Regions from separate parts of the Homo sapiens genome. Here region 1 is linked to region 2. The links come from fine-mapping of genetic effects on gene expression. A gene starts in region 2. The other region holds a variant in brackets. All regions are shown on one strand. Distances are between the middles of the regions.

Region 1 (8,310 bases), 23 kb after region 2:
TAGAAAATCATCCTTGATTCTAGGAATGTAACACCGCATCATCACACAGCTATCATTTGGGGTGCGTTGGGAACTAGGGTCATGGGAGCTGGGGATCTTCTAACTTGGAAATCGTCACCACTAGGTTTGAAGGAAGCGCGGCCCTCCCCTCGAGATGCTGTTCTCTTCCTTTCAGGGCATGGATGGAGCCCCGAGGCGGTGGGAGCTCCCAGGTCTCGTGGGGCAGGGGCGGCATGTGCAGGGTGGTGCCCGGGGCCTGAACCCATGAAGACCCCACCGGACCCATTCTGCTACCCTCCAGTGCCTCTGCTGACTCCACATGGAAAATTTCCAGTACAGCGTCCAGCTGAGTGACCAGGACTGGGCCGAGTTCTCAGCCACCGCCGATGAGTGTGGCCTCCTGCAGGCCGGCCTGGCCTCTGGGGACGAGCTCTTGTCCAGTGACATTGACCAAGGGGACAGCAGTGGCAGCAGTCCCCCCAGGGCCCCACCTCTCCCAACTGGGCAGCTAGCTGCAGGAGGGCGGAGCCGGCGGGGCTGCGAGGAGGAGGACGTGGCCACACAGCAGCCGGTCAGCAGGTCTCAGGGTGAGCCTGTCTTGGCCCTGGGGACCGGTCAGCAGACACCCAGCACGTCCGCACGGGCAGAAGCTCCACCGTCCCTCGGCCCCGGCGCCAGCCCTCCCAGCCAGTTCTCATCCTGCCCTGGTCCGGCGTCTTCTGGAGACCAGATGCAGAGGCTTCTGCAGGGCCCTGCCCCACGGCCCCCTGGTGAGCCCCCTGGGAGTCCCAAGTCCCCTGGCCACAGCACTGGCTCCCAGAGGCCCCCCGATAGCCCTGGAGCCCCACCACGGAGCCCCAGCCGAAAGAAGAGGCGAGCTGTGGGTGCCAAGGGGGGTGGGCACACAGGAGCCTCTGCTTCTGCCCAGACGGGCTCCCCGCTGCTCCCTGCGGCCAGTCCTGAGACGGCAAAGCTGATGGCCAAAGCCGGGCAGGAGGAGTTGGGGCCAGGTCCTGCAGGAGCTCCTGAGCCTGGCCCCAGGTCCCCTGTGCAGGAAGACAGACCAGGGCCAGGTTTGGGCCTGTCTACACCTGTCCCTGTGACAGAGCAAGGCACAGACCAAATCAGAACCCCGCGCCGAGCCAAGCTGCACACAGTGTCCACGACTGTCTGGGAAGCCCTCCCAGATGTCTCAAGGGCTAAGTCAGACATGGCTGTGTCTACACCTGCCTCCGAGCCGCAACCTGACAGGGACATGGCTGTGTCTACACCTGCCTCCGAGCCGCAATCTGACAGGGACATGGCTGTGTCTACACCTGCCTCTGAGCCGCAACCTGACACGGACATGGCTGTGTCTACACCTGCCTCTGAGCCGCAACCTGACAGGGACATGGCTGTGTCTATACCTGCCTCCAAGCCGCAATCTGACACGGCTGTGTCTACACCAGCTTCTGAGCCTCAGTCCAGTGTGGCTCTGTCTACACCCATCTCCAAGCCACAATTGGACACGGACGTGGCTGTGTCCACACCTGCCTCCAAACATGGCCTGGATGTGGCCTTGCCTACAGCAGGCCCAGTGGCTAAGCTAGAGGTGGCTTCATCTCCACCTGTCTCGGAGGCTGTGCCGAGGATGACCGAGTCCAGCGGGCTTGTGTCTACACCTGTTCCCAGAGCCGACGCCGCTGGCCTCGCCTGGCCTCCCACCCGCAGAGCTGGGCCTGATGTGGTGGAGATGGAGGCGGTTGTGTCTGAGCCCTCAGCAGGGGCCCCCGGATGCTGCTCTGGGGCACCCGCACTGGGTCTCACCCAAGTCCCCAGGAAGAAGAAAGTGCGCTTCTCCGTGGCTGGGCCCAGCCCCAATAAGCCAGGCTCAGGACAGGCCTCAGCCCGGCCCTCAGCCCCCCAGACAGCAACTGGGGCCCACGGGGGGCCCGGAGCCTGGGAGGCTGTGGCTGTCGGGCCCCGGCCCCACCAGCCTCGGATCCTCAAGCACCTGCCTCGCCCCCCTCCCTCTGCCGTGACGAGGGTCGGGCCCGGGAGCAGCTTTGCCGTGACCCTCCCGGAGGCCTACGAGTTCTTCTTCTGTGACACCATCGAGGAGAACGAAGAGGCTGAGGCGGCAGCGGCCGGTCAGGATCCGGCAGGCGTCCAGTGGCCGGACATGTGCGAGTTCTTCTTCCCAGACGTTGGAGCCCAGAGGTCGAGGCGGCGGGGGTCCCCGGAGCCGCTCCCGAGAGCTGATCCTGTGCCGGCCCCCATACCTGGAGACCCCGTGCCCATCTCCATCCCTGAGGTCTATGAACACTTCTTCTTCGGGGAGGACAGGCTTGAGGGCGTGCTGGGGCCGGCTGTCCCGCTCCCACTGCAGGCCCTGGAGCCTCCCCGGTCGGCCTCCGAGGGGGCGGGGCCTGGGACCCCCCTCAAGCCAGCCGTGGTAGAGCGGCTCCACCTGGCTCTTAGACGGGCAGGTACGTGCTCTCGGATCCCACAGCCCGTCCAGATCCCAGGCACACACTGTCCAGGGATCTTGGCCAAGCAGGGGGCCGCAGGGGCCGGGCAGGCCGGGCTTGGGTCATCCCCTAGCAGGGGAGCCTGGGGACCAGCCCCCAGTCATCCCAGCACACAGTCCAGATGGGGCGGCCCAGTCCAAGCACCCGGGTTGTTCAGGGGGTTGGCTCTGCGCCGCCGTTGCCCTGTGTTCGGGCCCATGTGACGGCGGCGTCCCTCCCCCAGCCTCTGGCAGGGTTCCCGCCCAGGCCTGGCTACCTTCAGGGTCAGGCACTCTACGAGGCCCATCTCACACTGATGTCCTCTGGGAGATGCTTTACAGACCAGAACACGGGGCCTCCACTGGCAGTTCCCCCAAACTGGCCCAACTCAACCAGGTCACCCAAATCTCAGGCAGAAGAAGCACGGGGGCGATGTGACTCCGACAGACGCGTCCAGGGCGGGCGGTTCCCGGGGCAGGCGGTTCCCGGGGCAACCAGTTCTCAGGAAGACGTGTCCATGACAGAGGGGTTTCGGGAAGACGTGTCCAGGGTAGACGTGTCCAGCACAAATGTATCTTAGGACAGACATGTCCCATGATGGATGTATCTGGGGCAGGCGGTTCCCGGGGCGGGCGTGTGCGGGGCAGGCAGTTCCCAGGCCAAGAGTGTGCAGGGTTAGGGTGGGGCAGGCGGTTCCTGGGGTTGGAGGGGGAGGCAGGCGGTTCCCGGGGCGGCCGTGTGCGGGGCAGGTGGTTCCCGGGGTTGCGGGGGAAGCGGCTCCCGGGGCAGGCAGTTCCTGGGGTTGGGGGGGGTTGGGAGGCGGTTCCTGGGGTTGGGGGGGGTTGGGAGGCGGTTCCTGGGGTTGGGGGGATTGGGAGGCGGTTCCCGGGGTTGGTCGGTGGGGGCAGGCGGTTCCCGGGGTTGCGGGGTGGTGGGAGGCGGTTCCCGGGGTTGCGGGGGGAGTGGGAGGCGGTTCCCGGGGTTGGGGGTGGTGGGAGGCAGTTCCCGGGGTTGGGGGGATTGGGAGGCGGTTCCCGGGGTTGGTGGGGGTGGGAGGCAGTTCCCGGGGTTGGGGGGATTGGGAGGCGGTTCCCGGGGTTGGTGGGGGTGGGAGGCGGTTCCCGGGGTTGGTCGGTGGGGGCAGGCGGTTCCCGGGGTTGCGGGGGGAGCGGGAGGCGGTTCCCGGGGTTGGTGGGGGGAGCGGGAGGCGGTTCCCGGGGTTGGTGGGGGGAGCGGGAGGCGGTTCCCGGGGTTGGTGGGGGGAGCGGGAGGCGGTTCCCGGGGTTGGTGGGGGGAGCGGGAGGCGGTTCCCGGGGTTGGTGGGGGGAGCGGGAGGCGGTTCCCGGGGTTGGTGGGGGGAGCGGGAGGCGGTTCCCGGGGTTGGTGGGGGGAGCGGGAGGCGGTTCCCGGGGTTGGTGGGGGGAGCGGGAGGCGGTTCCCGGGGTTGGTGGGGGGAGCGGGAGGCGGTTCCCGGGGTTGGTGGGGGGAGCGGGAGGCGGTTCCCGGGGTTGGTGGGGGGAGCGGGAGGCGGTTCCCGGGGTTGCGGGGGGAGTGGGAGGCGGTTCCCGGGGTTGGTCGGTGGGGGCAGGCGGTTCCCGGGGTTGGCGGGGTGGTGGGAGGCGGTTCCCGGGGTTGGTGGGGGGAGCGGGAGGCGGTTCCCGGGGTTGGTGGGGGGAGCGGGAGGCGGTTCCCGGGGTTGGTGGGGGGAGCGGGAGGCGGTTCCCGGGGTTGGTGGGGGGAGCGGGAGGCGGTTCCCGGGGTTGCGGGGGGAGCGGGAGGCGGTTCCCGGGGTTGGTGGGGGGAGCGGGAGGCGGTTCCCGGGGTTGGTGGGGGGAGCGGGAGGCGGTTCCCGGGGTTGCGGGGGGAGTGGGAGGCGGTTCCCGGGGTTGCGGGGGGAGTGGGAGGCGGTTCCCGGGGTTGGCGGGGGGAGTGGGAGGCGGTTCCCGGGGTTGGCGGGGGGAGTGGGAGGCGGTTCCCGGGGTTGGCGGGGGGAGTGGGAGGCGGTTCCCGGGGTTGGCGGGGGGAGTGGGAGGCGGTTCCCGGGGTTGGCGGGGGGAGTGGGAGGCGGTTCCCGGGGTTGGCGGGGGGAGTGGGAGGCGGTTCCCGGGGTTGGCGGGGGGAGTGGGAGGCGGTTCCCGGGGTTGGTGGGGGTGGGGGCAGGCGGTTCCCGGGGCGGGCGTGTGCGGGGCCATCTCTGAGTGCAGCCGTGGGGCTGAAGGTGAGCTTCTGTCCTAGGGGAGCTCCGGGGGCCTGTCCCATCATTTGCCTTCAGCCAGAATGACATGTGCCTGGTGTTTGTAGCTTTTGCCACCTGGGCTGTGAGGACGTCAGATCCGCATACCCCAGACGCCTGGAAAACAGGTTTGGGTGCCTGGGGGCAGAGGGAGCTGCGCCTAGAAGCCAGACCGAGGGGCGCTGGCAGGACGAGGGGTGCACGGGGGCCCCGGGGCTCACCCCTGACCTGCTCCCCCCAGGCTGAGCTGCGGCCCTGGCCGCACCGACCTTGCCCGCCCTTTGAGGGCTGGGTCTTGCGGGCAGACGGTGCCGACAGCCAGGCTGGCCCTCAGAAGAGCCTGTGCTTCTCTTGCAGCCTTGCTGGCCAACGTCGGCACCATCTCTGCCATCCGCTACTTCCGCCGGCAGG[T/C]GGGGCAAGGGCGCCGCAGCCACAGCCCCAGCCCCAGCTCCTAGGAGCCAGGCCCGGGCCAGGGAGATGCAGGATGAGGAGACGACCACAGGCGCCCAGGGCAGGACGAGGTGCCGCCCTCGCCCGGGCCCTCTGACCCCTCTCTTCTACCGCGTCCAGGAGGGGGGCGTGTCCTGGTGCTGCTCCCTCCGACTCACCTGAGGATCCAGCCAGTGACCACGGCCACTCCCCACGCCTGGGAGGGAGGTGCTAAAGTCTGGGTGGGTGGAGGGCAGGCAGGTGGCTGGGTAGGAGGGTGGCCAGATTCACAGATGAGAACACAGGGCATTCGGTTAATTTCAGACAGGCAATAGTGGGGAGGTCATTTTACTAAGAAGTTGTTGTTTATCTGAAATCAAATGCAACCGCACCCTGCGTTTCTTCTGGGGTGCAGGGGGAGCTGAGTGGCAGGACAGGACTTGGACCTCGGAGGGGTCTGAGCAGCAAGACACTCCGGCTGGAGCTCTGGGCAGAGGCAGGGGAGAGGACACAGGGTGGCCTCAAAGAGGGGATGGGCAGCCTCCTCACAGGTGGGCTGGGCTGGCAAGGGCTCCAAGGCCCATCACTCTTGATCCTCAAAGGACTGTGGCCAAGGCCTCTGCGGGCTCTGGCCTGAGACAGCGAAGGCTCTGCCTGCCCCTCCCCAGTGCAGCAGCCCCTGCAGGGTGGGGGTCTGTGGCAGAGCCGCGAGCCCCTCCCCGGGAGCCCTGGGTGCAGGTGCAGAGGGAGAATTCGGTGGCCTCAGATGGAGGGCTGGGCTCCTGGGGTTGTCCCGGGGGCTCCTGTGGGGCAGCTGGGGACCCACAGCCAAGAGGAGTCAGAGATGAGGTGGGAAGGTCGGTGAGGGGCCCGAGGTGGCAGAGGAAGGGGGCTGCCTGGCTGGGTGCTGGGTGGGGGTCCTCAAGACTGTGGGAGACCCTGGCTGCTGAGCAGAGAACACATGGATGCAGCACCAATAAAATTCTATCTTTTCTTTTTCTTTCTTCCTTTTCTTATTCTCTCTCTCTCTTTCCTTCTCTTCTCTTCTCTCTTCTCTTCTTTTCTCTCTTCTCCTCTCTCTCTTCTCTCTTTTTTCTTTCTCGTCCGGTGGTGTCAACGTCTCCCGTGCTGCCCTGTGGTGCGCGCCAGGCCACACAAGGACCCACCCACCCTCCTCCTCGGGGCACCCTGGCTTGTGCTCCTCACACCTTGCTGACCTGTGACCCTCATGCCCTCTGACCTCACATACTCTGACCCTGCTGACCTTTCTCTGTCCTCCGACCTTCACGCCCGTGCTGCCCTCCCACTCCCAGCGAGTCTCCTCCCTGACTCCTGGCGGGCTGAGCTGAGGGCCGACCCTGTGGACGGCCAGGACCTCCCTGACCTGTGACCCAGCCTCGCTGGCCAGGGCATCCTTTGGATGGGGCCCCTCCCACCCTTCCCTGCCCCAGCTGCTGGCACCAAGGAACAGGAGCTGAGGGACGGGCTCTGAACTCAGGGCCCCAGAGACTCCCCCCATCACACTGGGTTCAGACCCTGACTTGTAATTTGAAGTGGGTTAGAGGGGCAGGTACCCTGGAGCTTGGCGAGGGTGGTCCTGAGAACCCACCTCACCGCGGCCATCAGATCCACTGCACAAGCCCCCCACTGGCCTCAGGCCCTCCAAGCTGGGGGCACTTCTGGTGGGAGGAAGACAAAGTCTCGTCCCAGAGGTGGTCGTAGCCGGGGTCCCGGCTCCTCCTGGGGGACCGACCATCTGGTAGGGAAGGCAGAGATGTGTCAGCCTGTGGGAGGCAACAGGCACTCACCTCAGGAGGCAGGATCCTTACTCACCTGTCAGAGGCAGCCAGGGTTCGGGCGAACCTTCCCTGGCAGAGGAGACCTGGAACCCCAAACCGCAAGTCTGAGAGCCGGGCACAGCCCCAGGCAGGGAGCTTGGAGGCGGCCTGTCACTGTGCAGCCCCCCATGTCCCCCTGCTCTCCCTCCCCAGTCCCATCTCCCCAACTCCCTACTGGCCCCCCTGGCCTCCATCTGCCCCCGTCCTCCTGTTTCCCTCCCTGCTCCCTCAGAGTCCCAAGAGGCCCCACACCAGACCCCCGGCCAGCCCGGAGCCCGGGGCACACGGGCGTGGGGGCTGCTACTCACAAGCTGAGGGGCGTCTGGGGGCTGCGGCCCCCCATCCTTGGCTGAGCCCCGGTGTCTCTGAGCGGCTCTGGACTGCAGGGCTCCCTTCTTGGAGAGCAAGTAGGGGCCAGCGGGGCCGGAGGAGCAGGAGCGAGGGTCAGAGGCAGGCACAGACACAGGCACCGAGGGGAGTGGGCTCGAGGGCGTGGGTCCACGTGCACTCTGCATGGCACTGAGGAACTGCAGGGAGAGCCAGGGCTGGGGCCTGGGTGGCAGCCAGGGGCCCCCAGAACCTCAACCTCCCATCAGAGCCTGAACAGACCTCAGGCTTGGGGCAGCCCCAGACCCCAGGGTGAGACGCACGGTCTAGACCTCCCCAGCCTCAGGCTGCAGGCACCTCCCACCCTTTCTGTCACCCAGCAGGGGCCTGACCTCCTCCAGGCCCCGGACATCTGTGACCCTGCGGTGGGAGGTGGCGGGTGGTGTGTAGGGGTCGGCATAGAGGGGCGAGTGTGATGTTTCCGAAGTGTGGTCAGGGGCATCTGGGCTGCTCTCCAGGCTCAGCCTGTGCAGCTGCAGGGCAGAGGTGGGAGAAATGGGCTTCTCGGCTAGAAACAGCCTAGGCCACCCCTTCTCTGTGCAAGAGGCCTCTGGGTGGCTCCAGGACAACTGGGCCCAGAGACAGAGACCAGTGGTGCGGAACGGTGGGAACCAGGCCAGGGGCTGTGTGGGTGTGCTGGGCCCACCTGGGTCAGGTCCAGGTGCAGTGGGGTGACAGGGCCGCGGCCCTCTGCCCGGGCCTTGCTCCCGGGTGACCGGCTGCTGCCACTGCGTCTCAGCTCGGTCCTCCGTCGGCCAATGCTGGCACGGTCAGAGTTGGCCTGGTCCTGTGGGGACCACAAACCTTCCAGGAAGAGCCCTTTGGCCCCTCTCCCGTGCAACTCTCTGAGGCTGCAAGGGGCTCCCTCCAGTCTGAGTTCCCCTGAGGAACCAGGGTCCCCAACACACACCTACCCGACAGCCTTCTGCCCCAC
Region 2 (8,310 bases):
GCCTGGTGCTGCTGCTTCTGCCTGAGTCCTGGTCTCTCTCTGGCAGCCTGGATTCCTGCAGCCCTGGCCTTCTGTCACTACAATCCCAGCAAACACCCAGGAACAGCTCTGCGCCCACCTCGGCTCTCCGGGAGAGAAACCCACCCCCACCCCAGCCTTGGTTCCTCGGTGGCTTTGGCCCCAGCTGCCTGAGTGCACAGCCCGCTGCCCTGGGCAGGAGTTGGGGACCATGCTGAGGACCACCTGCAGGGGGTGGCTACAGGTCTCTGATGTCAGGAGTCAGTGTGTGAGGGGGGTGTTGAGGGCCGTGGCGAGATGGCAGCCGCCACCTCTGGGTCAGAGGTTGGGAGGGGAGGTCACAGCCAGCACCTCACAGGCCTTTTGGGGACACTGGCTGTGGTCATGGAGTGCGGCCACAGTGGCCCAATGTGAGGAGACCCCCCAACAAGGCTGAGGCCCCCCCAGGTCCAGCCTAGAAGACACCCCGGTTTTCCCCACAGTCTCCCCACTGGCGTGTGAATGTCCTCATCAGTCACCCCCCTTAGCTAACAGGGGGCTGTGCAGATGCCCCGGGGCCACCCGCCATTTGGAGCTTGACCCACTCAGGGCCAGGAGGTCGGCTGGATTTCAGTGGCTCCCAAGAAGCACCCGTTAGATGGGGGGGAGGGGTGGGGAAGTCGCTGAGCCTCTGCCTCTGTGGAAGAGAGGAAGGGATCAGCGAGGAGGGAGCAGGGGTGAGGAGGGAAGGGTCACTCTCCCTGGGTCAGGGCCCCAGCCCACCTCCACTATTCCAGTCTTGAGTGCCGCACCACAAACCACCCCAAAACAGCACGCTCAGCAACCACCCTACTGTGTGCGGGCAGCCTTGGAACGGGGCGCGCTGGGACCTGCGCCGGAAGCTGCTCAGGAGTCTGGAATCCAATGCTGATTCCTCCACGGGGCCTCTCCTTGAGGCCAGGGCGTGCTCCCTCCCAGCACGGCAGCTGGGTTCCAAGAGCGACTGTCCCAGGACAGCGAGGTACGCATGGCGTCTTCCAAGTCAGCCTCAGAAGTCATGTCCTGCCAAACACCCCATTCTTCCCAGCTGAGACTGTCACAGAGTCTCATGTAGAAGGCATTTCAAGATATGGGGATGGGAGATACTATCACGGCCGTCTCTGAAAAACGCAACCTGCCCCCAACCCAGGTGTCGGCACCATCCTGGGCTGCAGCCCAGGATCCACCCCCACACTCAGAGCAAGGGAACCCCAAGGCCCTCAGGAACCCTGAGGCCCCTACCACAAATCGAGGCCAGATTCGAGAGGCAGGGAGGGGACCATCAGAGGCCAAGGGCACAGACCCAGAGAGACAGACACACAGATGGGAGCTGTCCTGTGGCAAAGAAGGTGGGAGGAACACAGTCCCCGGAGATCCTGGAGTGGGCTCCCTGGCAGGGGGCAGGGAGCAGGGGGGTCTCTTCCTCTCCAGAAGAGCAGAGGCAAGTGCTGGTGGCCCCTCCTGCCTCTGCTCAGCAAGGACCCCAGCTGCTGCCCAGGGGCAGGAACCCTGGCAGATGGGCGTGGGTGCTCACTATGAGTTGGACGCCGTCAGTGGCTTTAAAAGTAGAATCTCCTGGCCAGGCACGGTGGCTCACACCTGTAATCCCAGCACTTTGGGAGGCTGAGGTGCGTGGATCACCTGAGGTGGGGAGTTTGAGACCAGCCTGACCAACATGGAGAAACTACATCTCTACTAAAAATACAAAAATTAGCCAGGTGTGGCGGCACACGCCTGTAATCCCAGCTACTCCAGAGGCTGAGGCAGGAGAATCGCTTGAATACAGGAAGCAGAGGTTGTGGTGAGCCCAGATCGTGCCACTGCACTCCAGCCTGAGCGACAAGAGTGAAACTCCGTCTCAAAAAAGAAAAAAAAAAAGTAGAATCTCCTATTAAGACCAGCCTGGCCAACACAGTGAAACCCCATCTCTACTAAAAATACAAAACACTAGCCGGGCGTGGTGGTACATGCTTGTAATCCCAGCTACTTGGGAGGCTGAGGCAGGAGAATCGCTTGAACCCGGGAGGCAAAGGTTGTGGTGCCACTGCACTCCAGCCTGGGCAACAGAGCGAGACGCTGCCTCAAAAAAAAAAAAAAAAAAAAGTTAGCTCCCTTTTACAGATGAGAAAACAGGTACAAGGAGGGGAAGTGAGCCCATCTAAAAACCAGTGAGGGAATGATCAGTCCCAGCCACGCTTGGCAGGGAGGAGACTCACGCCTGTAGTCCCAGCACGTTGGGAGGCCGAGGCAGGAGCATCGTCTCGGGCCAGGAGTTCGAGACCAGCCTGGGCAACATAGGGAGATCCCCATCTCTACAAAAAAAAAATAAATAAAAACGATCCTCAGGCTCCTCCTTCCATCCCGAACTCCCTGCCTGTCTAGGGACTGGGGGAGGCCCAGAGCCCCCCCAAATTTCTTCCCAAGCCGGGGCCCAGGGGCTGGGGAGATTCAGGCCGGCAGCTCCCCTGGGATGACCCCCAGCAGGAGGCGGCGGCGACTGCGGCCACTGGGGGCGCTCGCGGGCTTTCCCGCCCGGGCCCAGCGCTCAGGCCGGGGAGGGACGCGGGACGGGGACACCATCCACACCACCTCCTGGGCTACGGGGCCGGTCCGAGCCTCTCCAGCGCCGAGGCGCGCGCAGAGAGGTCGGGGCAGGAGAGCCGGGGCTTAAGTGCTCGCGGGGCCACCTCCGAGACGCCCGCCCAGCCCCCGCGGCTTTCCCCAGTCGGCGAGGGGCGCGGACAGCCTCTCGGCGGAGAGGGCGCCACCCCCGCTCCGGCCTCGCAGCCCCCCGCGCCCCTGTGCAAGCGGCGGGGTGTGGGGGGCGCCTCAGGGGCACCGCGGAGGGCCGGGGTCAGCGCCGCGAAGAGGGCGCCTTCCCGCGTGGGCCGCAGGACTTTGCTTGGGGCCAGATTAGACGTGGGGTCCGAGGGGAGGGGAAGCTTCCGCACAGAAACCCTGGGTCCAGGTGCCCGGGCAGGGGCGAACCTGCCAATCAGCCGACTCCCTGGCTCAGAAAAGCTCCCCAAAAAGTTCCCCGACTCCCTCCCCGACCAGAAGCTCCCGGTTCTCGCTGGCCCAGCTCCCCCTCCCCACCTCCCTCGTCCCTGCGCCCCCTTCGCACCCTGGGAATGCCACGCCCTCCCTTGAGGCTTCCCCCCTGAGGACCCCCCACCCCGCAGAAGCCTTTGGGACCACCCGGCGTCAAGAAGGCTTTTGTCCACCCAGGCCACCCACCTAATTCGGTTCTCTTACGTGACTGCTGAGTCTGCCATCTGCCTCCTGCCCGGATTGAAAGCCCGGGAGGGTCTCCACACCCGGGCCCAGGCCAGGCTCTCCAGGGGGCTCAGGAAGCCTCCGCTGCACGGACGCGTGAGGCCGCCGGGGACCCCGAGTGCGGAAAGGACCAACGTGCCCCGCAGCGGCATTCGAAATAAAAACAGCAAACACGAAAATAACCACAGCCCTGTTTTACGCAACCTGCCCCTTTGCAGTTATATTAACAGTGGCCCCTCATTTTTCTGTGAGCCCCACTTTGCTGCTGCTGAGTTCGCCAGCGGGTCACCTGGAAGCACGTGGCGACACGGGCCACATGACGTCATCCCAGCAGGCTTGCGTCATCGCCCCGGGTGCCTGGTGACGTCACCAGCCCGCTCGCGTCACGCGCACGTTCTGCTCCTCGTGGTCCGGCCCGGCCCGCGCCATCACCGGCCCTGCTCTGCGGGGCCACCCGTGCGCCCCTTCGCCGTCCGCTGACTCCGCCCTCCCGCCTGCCGACCCGGCCGCCGACCTTCCCCCGGCTCTGTCGCTCCCAAGGCTTTCTGCAGCCCTCCGTGCTCCAGGCCGCACACCTGAGGGTGGGACCCCCGGAGGCCGAGCCGGTGTCGGATCAAACTCGGAGACCGAGCAGGGCCCAAACCGGGACCGGAGTGGGGACGGGCGGAGGAAGCCAAGAGGCTCGAGACCGAGGCTCGCCCACCCCTCGGCGCCGCCGGACCCTGCGCCACTGGGGGAATTTCCTTCCCGACTTCCCGCGCGGCCACAGCCCCAGCTCCGTCCAGCCCCGGCTCCCGGCCCCCTGGGCGGGAGAGTGAGCCCCGAGACTCCGCCCAGCCCCGGGGGTCCCGGGCCCCGTTCGCCCCCAGCGGCCCCTCCCGGCGCGTTGCTCGGCCCCGGCTGCATCGGGGAGCGCGGGATCACCCGGCCCTGTCCCCAGCGGTGTCGGAGGGGGGCGCGGGCGGGGGCCCCGCATGCCATTGTCGCCCGCGGAGGCCGCGCCCGGAGCCGAGGCGTGACTGACAGCGAGCGGGGGAGGAGCGCGGCCGTCGATTGGCTGGGGCGAGTGTGGGAAAGAATGCGGAGCCGGGTTCACACACCCCGCGGCGGCGAGGCCTTAAATAGGGAAACGGCCTGAGGCGCGCGCGGGCCTGGAGCCGGGATCCGCCCTAGGGGCTCGGATCGCCGCGCGCTCGCCGCTCGCCCGCCAGCCCGCCCGTGGTCCGTGGCGGCGCGCTCCACCCGGCACGGGGAGGCGCGGGGCGCACCATGGCCGCAGACACGCCGGGGAAACCGAGCGCCTCGCCGATGGCAGGAGCGCCGGCCAGCGCCAGCCGGACCCCAGACAAGCCCCGGAGCGCGGCCGAGCACCGCAAGGTGGGGTCCCGGCCGGGCGTGAGGGGGGCGACCGGGGGGCGGGAGGGACGCGGGACTCAGCCGGTGCCCGACCCGCAGTCCTCCAAGCCGGTCATGGAGAAGCGGCGCCGAGCGCGTATTAACGAGAGCCTCGCTCAGCTCAAAACCCTCATCCTGGACGCCCTCAGAAAAGAGGTAAGTCGGGGGCGAAGGCCCGAGACCCGGAGTCTGGGTCGCAGCTGACCTGGACCTCCCGCCTATCCCCGCCCCCAGAGCTCCCGCCACTCGAAGCTGGAGAAGGCGGACATCCTGGAGATGACCGTGAGACACCTGCGGAGCCTGCGTCGCGTGCAGGTGACGGGTGAGGCGCGGGCGGCGGCGGCTTGGAGGCGGGGGGAGGGCGCGGGACCCCCGGGACCCGGCACCGACCTCTCCTCCTGTGTCGCTCCCGCAGCCGCGCTCAGCGCCGACCCCGCCGTTCTGGGCAAGTACCGCGCCGGCTTCCACGAGTGTCTGGCGGAGGTGAACCGCTTCCTGGCCGGCTGCGAGGGCGTCCCGGCCGACGTGCGCTCCCGCCTGCTGGGCCACCTGGCAGCCTGCCTGCGCCAGCTGGGACCCTCCCGCCGCCCGGCCTCGCTGTCCCCGGCTGCCCCCGCAGAGGCCCCAGCGCCCGAGGTCTACGCGGGCCGCCCGCTGCTGCCATCGCTCGGCGGCCCCTTCCCTCTGCTCGCGCCGCCGCTGCTGCCGGGTCTGACCCGGGCGCTGCCCGCCGCCCCCAGGGCGGGGCCGCAGGGCCCGGGTGGGCCCTGGAGGCCGTGGCTGCGCTGAGGCTGTGGCCCTGAGACTGCATCGGAGGCGGCGCCCCGTTCTAGGGCCGTGGCCTTTGCCGAGACTGTAGCAGAGAAAACGTATTTATTATTCCAGAGTCTGCGTCACGAGTTTTCTTTCTTTGTCTTGGTGAAGAGTTGACTTTGGGAGCGCCCCGCAGCCACGCCGCGCCGGGGTCCCGCCCTCCTCCCAGGGCCGCGGTCTGCAGGTGGCTGGGGGCGTCGGGCGGGCCCGGGGGGGCGGGCTGGGGGCGGGACCGAGGACTGAGGGCGACCCCTCCGCTCCGCGCCCTCCGCTCCGCGCCCTCCCCTCCGCATCCCTGCAGCCCCGCATGCGCACCCGCCCTCTGCCCCCGCGTTGGGTTTGCCTCGCTCTGCGGTGGCGGTTGTGAGGGGTCCCCCCGGAGGCTCAGGTGGGAAGCTCAACGTCCCTGAGTGCCCAGAATCTTCCCGGTGCTGGAAGGCGGTCGCGCAGCATCGCCGGGCAAGTTACTTTTCGGAGGCCCCTTTCCCGACTCCCAGTCCCCGGACCGCGGAAGGCGGAGGCTGCGGTCCTGAGCGGCGCTGGGATGAGGGCGGCCGCCCTTGGCCCTGAAGACCCCCGCTGGGTTCTCCTGTTAAGTGCAGAGCTGCCCGTGCCCACCGCAGACCCCTCCTCCAGGCGTCTGTGCGGGGGGCGCCCGGCGGGAGCGCGCGGGTCCGAGCTGGGCTGTGGACACCGAGTGCCGGGGCCAAGGACGTCGCTCACGAGGGCGTCGGCCCTGCCCGCAGCCTCCCCTGCCCCGGTAAGGGAGGTTCCGCCTCCCCAGTGGGTGAGGACTGGGGGCTCCTCCCTCATCGTCCCGAGCACGTGCCGTTGTCGACCACCGAGTTACCAGGCAGCGCCGGACGTTCCCCTGAACCAGCGCCGCGGTCGCCATCCCGGTCCCGCGTTCGGGGGGGTCCGGCGCAGTTCGAGGCACTCAGCCGAGGCAGAGGGTCTCCCCCTGAGCCGCACCCAGGGCCATTTCCCAACTGGGGCCGAGTTCACCAGGGCCCACGGGAGGCGAGCGAGCCCTCCCACCAGCACTGGCCCTCCAGGCCCCAGTCTGTGCCTCCATCAGGAGCCCCCCTGGGCCCTCCAGGACACAGCCGTGCACAGCTTGTAGGAGCCTCCCAGGCCCAACAAGCCAGGCCACCCCTGGCCCCTGGCTGCCCTGCCCCCTCCCTGAGCTCCGAGGGCCAGGCCAGTGACCCTGGGCGGGGTAGCATTGGGCTGGGGGTCCCACCCTTGGTCCCCCCAGCAGTCCTACTCTGGGGGTCCTGGTCCCAGGAGAGCCTCAAAGTAGCCCTTCCCCTTGGGAGCCTGAGACCCCATGAGGGAGGCCCCCTTCTCCTTGGGAGCTTGAGACCCCGTGAGGGAGGCCCCCTTCCCCTTGGGAGCTTGAGACCCCGTGAGGGAGGCCTCCTCAGCAGCACAGGAAGGGACGGTCTTCTTGGGGGCAGCTGGAAGCTCAGCGTGGCCGGGGGAGGGGAGTTGCTCAGAGAAGGCATCAGTGCAGAAGGGGAAGGAGGGCCTGGGGCAGCGAAGCTGGGAGTGTGGGGAGGAGCTCAGGGTAAGAGAGGCACCCCACAAAGTCACCCGGGCTGTGGGTCCCAAGAGGGCAGGGCATCTCTCCACCAGGCTCTGGCCTTGAATGCCCTCTCCACTGTGGCGAAAGGGCCCTGCATAGCTGCCCAGGGACCACTCAGGTTCTGGGGGAATCACAGTCCTTGGGCAGTCCCTTCGCAGTCTGGGTTCCTTTGTGCTCCACACCACCTGCCCCCTGGCTTTTCCCCCTTGTTTCCTCCTAACTTGTCGTCCATCCCATCTGCCGCAGGCTGGGTGGTGCATCATCCGGGCCCAGCTGGACGGGGCTCCAGAGGGCGAGGGCTGAGTCTGTCCAGAAGCTCTGTCCTCAGCACCCAAAACAGGGAAATGGACCCACGGGGACCTAATCCATCCCTTTGAATGACAGAGCTGGGAGGTTTGGGTTAGACTAGCGAGGTCTCAGGAAACACAGCCTGAGGGGCCGGGCTGGACGGGGGCAGCATAGGGGCTGTCCTGGGCTCCCCCTCAGGCCGCCCCCTTCTCAGAGCCCCCCTCGGGCCTCCGGGAGCCAGCCTCTGCCTACACCCAGCCAGGACGCCCACCAGAACCTGCTTAGGCACGCGGGGGTTCTTTCTGCCCTCCCCACCCTGCATCCTGTGGCCCCAGACGTGAGGTGCCCCCTCCCGCGGGGGGTCCTTTCTGCCCTCCCCACCCTGCATCCTGTGGCCCCAGATGTGGGGTGCCCCCTCCAGCGGGGGTTCTTTCTGCCCTCCCCACCCTGCATCCTGTGGCCCCAGACGTGAGGTGCCCCCTCCCGCGGGGGGTCCTTTCTGCCCTCCCCACCCTGCATCCTGTGGCCCCAGATGTGGGGTGCCCCCTCCAGCGGGGGGTCCTTTCTGTCCTCCCCACCCTGCATCCTGTGGCCCCAGACGTGAGGTGCCCCCTCCAGCGGGGGGTCCTTTCTGCCCTCCCCACCCTGCATCCTGTGGCCCCAGATGTGGGGTGCCCCCTCCAGCGGGGGGTCCTTTCTGTCCTCCCCACCCTGCATCCTGTGGCCCCAGACGTGGGGTGCCCCCTCCAGCGGGGGGTCCTTTCTGCCCTCCCCACCCTGCATCCTGTGGCCCCAGATGTGGGGTGCCTCTTCCCGCGGGGGGGCCTTTCTGCCCTCCCCACCCTGCATCCTGTGGCCCCAGATGTGGGGTGCCCCCTCACGTGGGGGTCCTTTCTGCCCTCCCTACTCTCCAG

Evidence for each region.
Region 1: its variant is fine-mapped to the expression of HES4 in monocytes after LPS (Fairfax 2014, PIP 0.95).

What each region holds. Positions count from the first base shown.
Region 1 is chr1:973,039-981,348 of GRCh38, reverse strand. It overlaps PLEKHN1 (pleckstrin homology domain containing N1), which reads right to left. Exons shown (of 16, transcript NM_032129.3): 12 at 8,023-8,163; 13 at 7,709-7,849; 14 at 7,298-7,516; 15 at 6,985-7,033; 16 at 5,484-6,907. The coding sequence ends at 6,774. It overlaps PERM1 (PPARGC1 and ESRR induced regulator, muscle 1), which reads left to right. Exons shown (of 4, transcript NM_001394713.1): 2 at 176-2,468; 3 at 4,725-4,850; 4 at 5,080-6,151. The coding sequence starts at 320. The coding sequence ends at 5,177. Among named protein-coding and RNA genes, the nearest start is that of PERM1, 4.9 kb to the left of the region's middle. The variant T/C (reference allele first, on the strand shown) is at 5,134.
Region 2 is chr1:996,245-1,004,554 of GRCh38, reverse strand. HES4 (hes family bHLH transcription factor 4) reads left to right here and starts at 4,458. Exons shown (of 4, transcript NM_021170.4): 1 at 4,458-4,689; 2 at 4,768-4,863; 3 at 4,942-5,029; 4 at 5,123-5,591. The coding sequence starts at 4,582. The coding sequence ends at 5,496. RefSeq lists an enhancer at 2,276-2,415 and silencers at 2,466-2,815, 3,893-3,942, 4,043-4,422, 4,493-4,632, 5,183-5,492.